Homo sapiens: one gene and its partner. The protein of the gene in region 2 purifies or fractionates together with the protein of the main gene of each other region. This does not show direct contact. Each region holds a gene or a part of one and is shown on either strand. Other genes may lie near its edges.

Region 1 (3,395 bases), on a different chromosome or scaffold from region 2:
TTGGCTGTGTGACCTTTTACCCCTGTGGGCCCGCACCCGTTCCCGCCATAAAACAGTGCTTCTGAGAAGCACACTTCAGATTCCCACTCGCCCTCTCCCACCCTCCAATTCACCCAAACGTTAGGCTGCTGGGTGAGTGCGCCCGGCTGCTGGGCTGTGGGGTGCCCTGTGTTGCAGGGGAGGTGCGCCCTGTGGGGAGGTGGGGGAGGTGTGCTGTCTTGTGAGATGCATGGTGGGGTGAGGTGCGCTGTGTAGGGAGGTGGGGGGAGGTGCGCTGTATAGGGAGTGGGGGAAGTGCTATGTAGGGAGGTGGGGGAGTGTGCTGTGTAGGGAGGTGGGGGGAGTGCGATGTGTAGGGTGGTGGGGGGAGTGCACTGTGTAGCGTGGTTAGGGGAGGTGCGCTTTGTAGGATGGTAGGGGGAGAGTGTGCTGTGTAGCGTGGTGGGAGGAGGTGCGCCATGTGCGCCGTGTAGGGAGGTGGGGGGAGTGCTCTGTGTAGGGTCGTGGGGGGAGTGTGCTCTGTAGAGTGGTGGGGGAGTGTGCTGTGTAGGGAGGTGGGGGAGGGGAGGTGCACTGTGTAGGGAGGTGGGGGGAAATGCTTAGTGTAGGGTGGTGGGGGGAGTGCGCTGTTGTGAAGTGAGGCACACTGTGCCGTGTGCCATGAGTTAGGAAAGGAGGAGGAAGGCAGAAAGGCAGCTCTGTGCAGAGGTGGGCAGTGGTGTTGGCTGGACCTGGGCTGGAATTCTGGGGGTCACTAGTTAGGTTTCTGTCTCCAGCTAAGCTGCAGACCTCTATTTTCTCCTCTGTGCAATGGGAATAACAACAGTGTTTCTCATAGGGCTGTCTTTAGGATTAACGGAATAATCCGTTGTTGAGCTTATTAGCACTGTGCCTGGTACACAGCAGCCATCTAATCTGCTGGGCCCTCCCTGATGAGGGTGGGGGTCAAGGGAAGGAAAGGGCTTTGAACTCAAGGAAAATAGCCACCTTTTTCCTCTCCTCACAGGGAACCCAGTTTGGCCAGTGGGATACTGCTGGTTTTGAGAACGAGGACCAAAAACTGAAATTTCTCAGACTTATGGGTGGCTTCAAAAACCTGTCCCCTTCGTTCAGCCGCCCCGCCAGCACGATTGCAAGGCCCAACATGGCCCTCGGCAAGAAGGCGGCTGACAGCCTGCAGCAGAATCTGCAGCGGGACTACGACCGGGCCATGAGCTGGAAGTACAGCCGGGGAGCCGGCCTCGGCTTCTCCACCGCCCCCAACAAGATCTTTTACATTGACAGGAACGCTTCCAAGTCAGTCAAGCTGGAAGATTAAACTCTAGAGTTTTGTCCCCCCAAAACTGCCACAATTGCTTTGATTATTCCATTTATGCTGGAGATTACAAATTTTTTTTGTGAAAAAATCAGATCTTGGTGAGGACCTCGAGCAGTAAGATATAAATAACTCCCATAAGCTTAGCGTTCCAGTAATGGAACACTAGGCATAAATGGTTTATTCAGTTGTGCAAATGAAAGCCATCTGACAGTTGGCTCACATTGAACACCTGTGGAGATTAAGGACGAGGACAACTATATTGATGGGCTTGGATGAACTGGGGCAGGGCAGCTCATATTTCGGGAGCCAGGAGAACGAGTGAGTGCTAAAACCTCCTGTTTTCTGTGTTAAACATTCCGTCCCTGTTTGAGACATCAGTATGTACAGTTAACTTTTGTTGAGTGTTTAGCAGGTACTAGGGACATACTAGTGTTTTCCTTAATGTATTTAATCTTCATAATTATGAAATGGGTGCTATTATTAGCCCCATCTTATAGATGAGGCAACTGAGGTTCAGGGATAAAGTAATAAAATTGCCTGGGGTCACCCAGCCACTAAGTGCAGGGTGTTGTACTTTTGTACCCGAAGCCCTAAGTTCACTATTCGCCACTCTGAATGTCCCCTTTAGGGAATTTCCACCAGAATCCTCGTTGGGGATTGAAATGTCTTTAGATGGAGGAAAAAGTTTTATGACAAGTCTGCATCTCTGATAAAAAGTGGAGTGAATGAGGAACGGAGAATCGCAAACTCCTTTTCCTTCCTTTTCCTTTCCCCTGTCATAGAGCAGCTGTAGGCAGAGAGGTGTCTGAGTTGTTACCAAACACATGTGACTGAGCTGCTGCTGCTGGGAAATGTGCCTCTAAACCAGTCCTGCCTTTTCCACTGGTGTCCCTTCGGCCCTAAGTGCTGAGGTAGGATTTTTGTGCTTTGACTGGATTCTGAACAAGGCATTTTAGGAAGAGTGGTTAGTCCCGCAAATGAATCAATGGCAGATCCCAGGGACGTGTGTGTGTGTTTTGAGATAGGCTCTCACTCTGTCACCCAGGCTGGAGTGTAGTGGCATATCACGGCTTGTTGCAACCACTACCTATCCAGCTTAAGTGATCCTCCCACCTCAGCCTCCCAAGTAGCTGGGACTGTGGGTGTGCACCACAACAACCAGCTAGTGTTTAAAATTTTTTGTAGAGATGGGGTCTCACTATATTGTCCAGGCTAGTCCCAAACTCCTGGACTCAACTCATGCTCCTGCCTCAGCCCCCAAGAGCTGGGATCACAGGTGTGAGCCACTGTGCCCAGCCCCAGGGATGTGTCTGATGAGATTCTTTTTTATCACAAGGAAGAGAATCCCAGGTGACTTCTGTAGGTGGATATTGAATGCCAGGAGGAGATGAACGTGTGGAGATGACACGGGAAGTTGCCTCATCGGCTGTGGGGACAGCGTTTCCAAGCCTGGACTCTACAGCAAGCCTCAAAGAGCTCCAGGTCCAGTGGCCCAAGTCGCATGTGACCATCTGTGACCACCTTCTTTCCACTCACCTAGCTTTTTGCATCCCAAAATACAGGTTCTGACTGGGACATTTTCACGATCGTTTGGCCTGAACATGCCTCCTACAGACATCCCAGCCCAGGCAGGCCTCGATGGCCAGAAAGTTCAGTCTCACGTGGCAGGAAGGCCTGATTAGGGCCTGGTTCAACAGCTCGCCAAGGAAGCATTCTCTCCATCATCTCCAGTGTTGGCTTCATCAAGGCTAGTACAAAGATGGCAGTAACAGTTCCAGGCAGCATATCAAGACCCTAGAACATTCCAGAGGAAGAAAAGCCTTTTTGTGTCTCAAGGAAACTTCCAGAAGCCTCCATTGCTGGGCAATGAGTCATCTGCCCATAGCTGCACCCGCCCCTGTCATGGGAAGGCTGGTGATTCCCTTCAGTCAAGAAGAGTGGATGCTGGTGAAGTGGCCATGGTGTCCACAGCTGCCCATTGGGCAGAGGTGAGGCAGGCACTTCAGGCAGTTTCCCTGGCTCTGAACCCTGATCCGCAAGCATTGGCCAGGTCAATAGTTGGACAAGTATGTGCTAC
Region 2 (3,500 bases):
AAACTATATGAGGATACCATTTATTTGGTAAGAAGACCCGTGGAGTTAAAAAATAAATGGCTATGGAGCAAATCAGCCTTTCCTAGGGTTGAGGTAAAAGTTGATTTGTTCCAGCCACCCATACCATAAAACTCCTGATTTTCCTGTTTACTTCTTCCCAGCTTTATGTCTTTACTCTTCTTTGTTCAGCACCGAATCGTTCTCTCTCTTTTCTTCTCACTCATCCATCCCTGCTTTGTCTCTCTTAACTAACCATCTTACACAATTGCAATTATTTGTCATGTTCATATACGTTTTAAAAGCACATAGATTGAAAGTGTTGTCTTTCAAGCTTTAGGGTGTTTTTCGGGGGATGCATTTTTAAGTCCGCTTTTTTATATGTGATTGGTTCTTTACTCATTATAGAAAAGTGTTAACACTCATCAATAAAATACTAGAAACTTTCTCTAAAGACATTCAGGGTGGGCCTATGATAGGGATATTTTGGTTCAAATCCAATTTATTTGCTTTTATTAATTGTGCCATTACTTCATTGATGAGATTGTGTTTTGGCTACATATTTGAGGGGAGGAAATAAATATAAAAAGGTTAAATTGCTTTTTGGCACTTTAAATTGTTCCCCTGAATATTTACTAAGATGGGTAACGTAGATGGTGATCACAAGAATATGAAATAGGCTGGCTGCAGTGGCTCATGCTTGTAATCCCAGCACTGTGGGAGGCCGAGGTAGGCCGATCACCTGAGGTCAGGCCTTTGAGACCAGCCTGGCCAACATGGCAAAACCCTATCTGTACTAAAAATACAAAACTTAGCAGGGCATGGTGGTGCATGCCTGTAATCCCAGCTACTTGAGAGGCTGAAGGAGGGGAATTGCTTGAACCCAGAAGGCAGAGGTTGCAGTGAGCTGAGATCACACCACTGCACTCCAGCCTGCGTGACAGAGTGTGACTCCATCTCAAAAAAAAAAAAAAAAACATGAGACAGAATAAGATACACCCTGAATTAATATATAGTTTCAGTTGTGAAGTTTCATGTATTTAGAAGTCTGTGTACTTGGAACGTTGTAAAACTCTCTAAAGTACAGTCTGATTTTATAGGTTCTGAGTGCAAAAGTAGTTACAAATGCTCGAAGTCCTGGGGCAAAATGCTATGGCATTGTAACTATGTCTTCAAGCACAGAGGTGTCCAGGTGTATTGCACATCTTCATCGCACTGAGCTGCATGGACAGCTGATTTCTGTTGAAAAAGTAAGCTTCCCTAACTGTTTATCAAAGCAAGTCTAATTTGATGGCTAGTTCTCAACTCATAGCTGTTAACAGTAGCAGGGAGTAGAATTTGCAGTGATTTTTAATTTTTATGTATTTGTAGTTTTTACTCTCCTTATATTTTTCCTATCGTTTCCAAATTTTCTGCCATTAGCACACTTCTTATAATCACAAAAATGTAACCATATGTACAAATTGTTTTTCTGGTTCGAACCTTTCAGGTAAAAGGTGATCCCTCTAAGAAAGAAATGAAGAAAGAAAATGATGAAAAGAGTAGTTCAAGAAGTTCTGGAGATAAAAAAAATACGAGTGATAGAAGTAGCAAGTAAGGATTTATTTTTATTTATTTATTTTGATAAGCAGATAGACTTTTTTGGTACATTATGAAGTACTCATTCTGTTTTTTTGTCTGGGGCGGTATGGTCAGGACACAAGCCTCTGTCAAAAAAGAAGAGAAAAGATCGTCTGAGAAATCTGAAAAAAAAGAAAGCAAGGATACTAAGAAAATAGAAGGTAAAGATGAGAAGAATGATAATGGAGCAAGTGGCCAAACATCAGAATCGATTAAAAAAAGTGAAGAAAAGAAGCGAATAAGTATGCTATACATCTTTTCAATCCCTTTCTAATGCATTCTACTACTTAATTTTTACAGTGGAAGGGAAAACCTGAAATTCTAATCCAGATATAAGCTTTGTTGTTAGGTGTCATTGTGGTAGGAAAGGAGGTCTAGTAGGAGTAATTGTCTTCTTTTCTACTCTGGGGAAACAAACAAATGTATTCTTCCAGCTAAGCTCCTTTGCTATTCTGGGCTGACTTAAAATGGTCATTGATTAGTACTATTGAATTAGGATCTTTTGGTATCACTGAAAGTATTTATGTTAGCAGACTGAACTGTTTAAAAAACTCTTTGCATTGAAGTTCTTGTAGAATAAGTAGTTTTTTTATTTCATGTATTGGTGTGTGACTATCAGAATTTAGCATTTTTACATACATATTTTCTTTCTCAATGAAAAATTTTAGACATTGTTTTATATAATTTTTTTCCCTTAGGTTCCAAGAGTCCAGGACATATGGTAATACTAGACCAAACTAAAGGAGATCATTGTAGACCATCAAGAAGAGGAAGATATGAGAAAGTAAGTCTCTGATCAGGATGGTTGTATACTACTTCAGCTGTTTACAAAAGAAGATAATTCTGTTTTTCCATAACCATCTTTGCGTACTTGCATGCTAGCAAACCCAAGAAAAAGGAAATGTTACTAGTCATTTGAACTTTTTAAATGACCTACTAAACTTGAAAAATAAAGCCCCAAAATATTTTAATTTCTAGTGTTCTTCTAATTTTTTTCTACAGATTCATGGAAGAAGTAAGGAAAAGGAGAGAGCTAGTCTAGATAAAAAAAGAGATAAAGACTACAGAAGGAAAGAGATCTTGCCTTTTGAAAAGATGAAGGAACAAAGGTTGAGAGAACATTTAGTTCGTTTTGAAAGGCTGCGACGAGCAATGGAACTTCGAAGGTAGGAAGAGAGTCTGTTTTATACCTGTCTTTAAATATAGGTAAATATTTAACACTAGTTGTAAGCCATATTTCTGGAAATTGTATTCCCACAGAAAACTGTTTGCCACCTTAAAGAAGTTACGGTAGCATCTAATGATTTCTTAAGTTTGCATAGCACTTTACAATTTACAAAGTGCTTTTCCATCTGTTGTCTCCAACTCAACAGTTCTGTAAGGCTAGTTATGCCCATTATACAATTGAAAAAAATGGAGGCCCAGAGAGGCTAAATGACTCTTCCAATGGCCACATGGCTAACAAGTGGCAGAGTCGGGACTCAGACCCAAGTCTTCTGACTCCAAGTCCAATGCTCTTTCCTCAACACCAAAGCTGCTGCCATAAAAAACATGACTTCAAAGGAAAAATTTGAGATAAGATAGTTTCAAAGTAGCTACAGTGTTCAAATACTGTAATCTGAAATTTTAACAAATTTAGCAAAAATTTATTGTTTGCATTAGTGCCTAAGAGAAGGAAGATTTGCCCTGTGAGCCTAATGGTATTCGGATTATATCCCAAAGCAAGCATTCTCTTTAAAACAAACGGAAAATATAAACAAAGCAAGATGTTTCCATTTTTAGTGGCCATATCTCAACAGTTCACGAGTGTCAGTTTACTTTTGTATATCAATTTTTGGATGCCACTTAAAATAGTCTTGTGGGTGTGTTTTATAGTATATTAT

The links. The genes of interacting proteins can lie anywhere in the genome.
Region 1: the proteins of SLTM (region 2) and KNOP1 purify together in Homo sapiens (affinity purification with mass spectrometry, with the first as the bait; one large-scale study listed by BioGRID). This does not show direct contact.

The regions. Positions count from the first base shown.
Region 1 is NC_000016.10:19,704,833-19,708,227, reverse strand, and holds part of KNOP1 (lysine-rich nucleolar protein 1), read left to right. Parts: intron 1-1,006; coding exon 1,007-1,318; 3' UTR 1,319-3,395.
Region 2 is NC_000015.10:58,892,180-58,895,679, reverse strand, and holds part of SLTM (SAFB-like transcription modulator), read left to right. Parts: intron 1-1,097; coding exon 1,098-1,247; intron 1,248-1,486; coding exon 1,487-1,590; intron 1,591-1,692; coding exon 1,693-1,859; intron 1,860-2,315; coding exon 2,316-2,401; intron 2,402-2,619; coding exon 2,620-2,783; intron 2,784-3,500. UniProt on the Homo sapiens protein: When overexpressed, acts as a general inhibitor of transcription that eventually leads to apoptosis.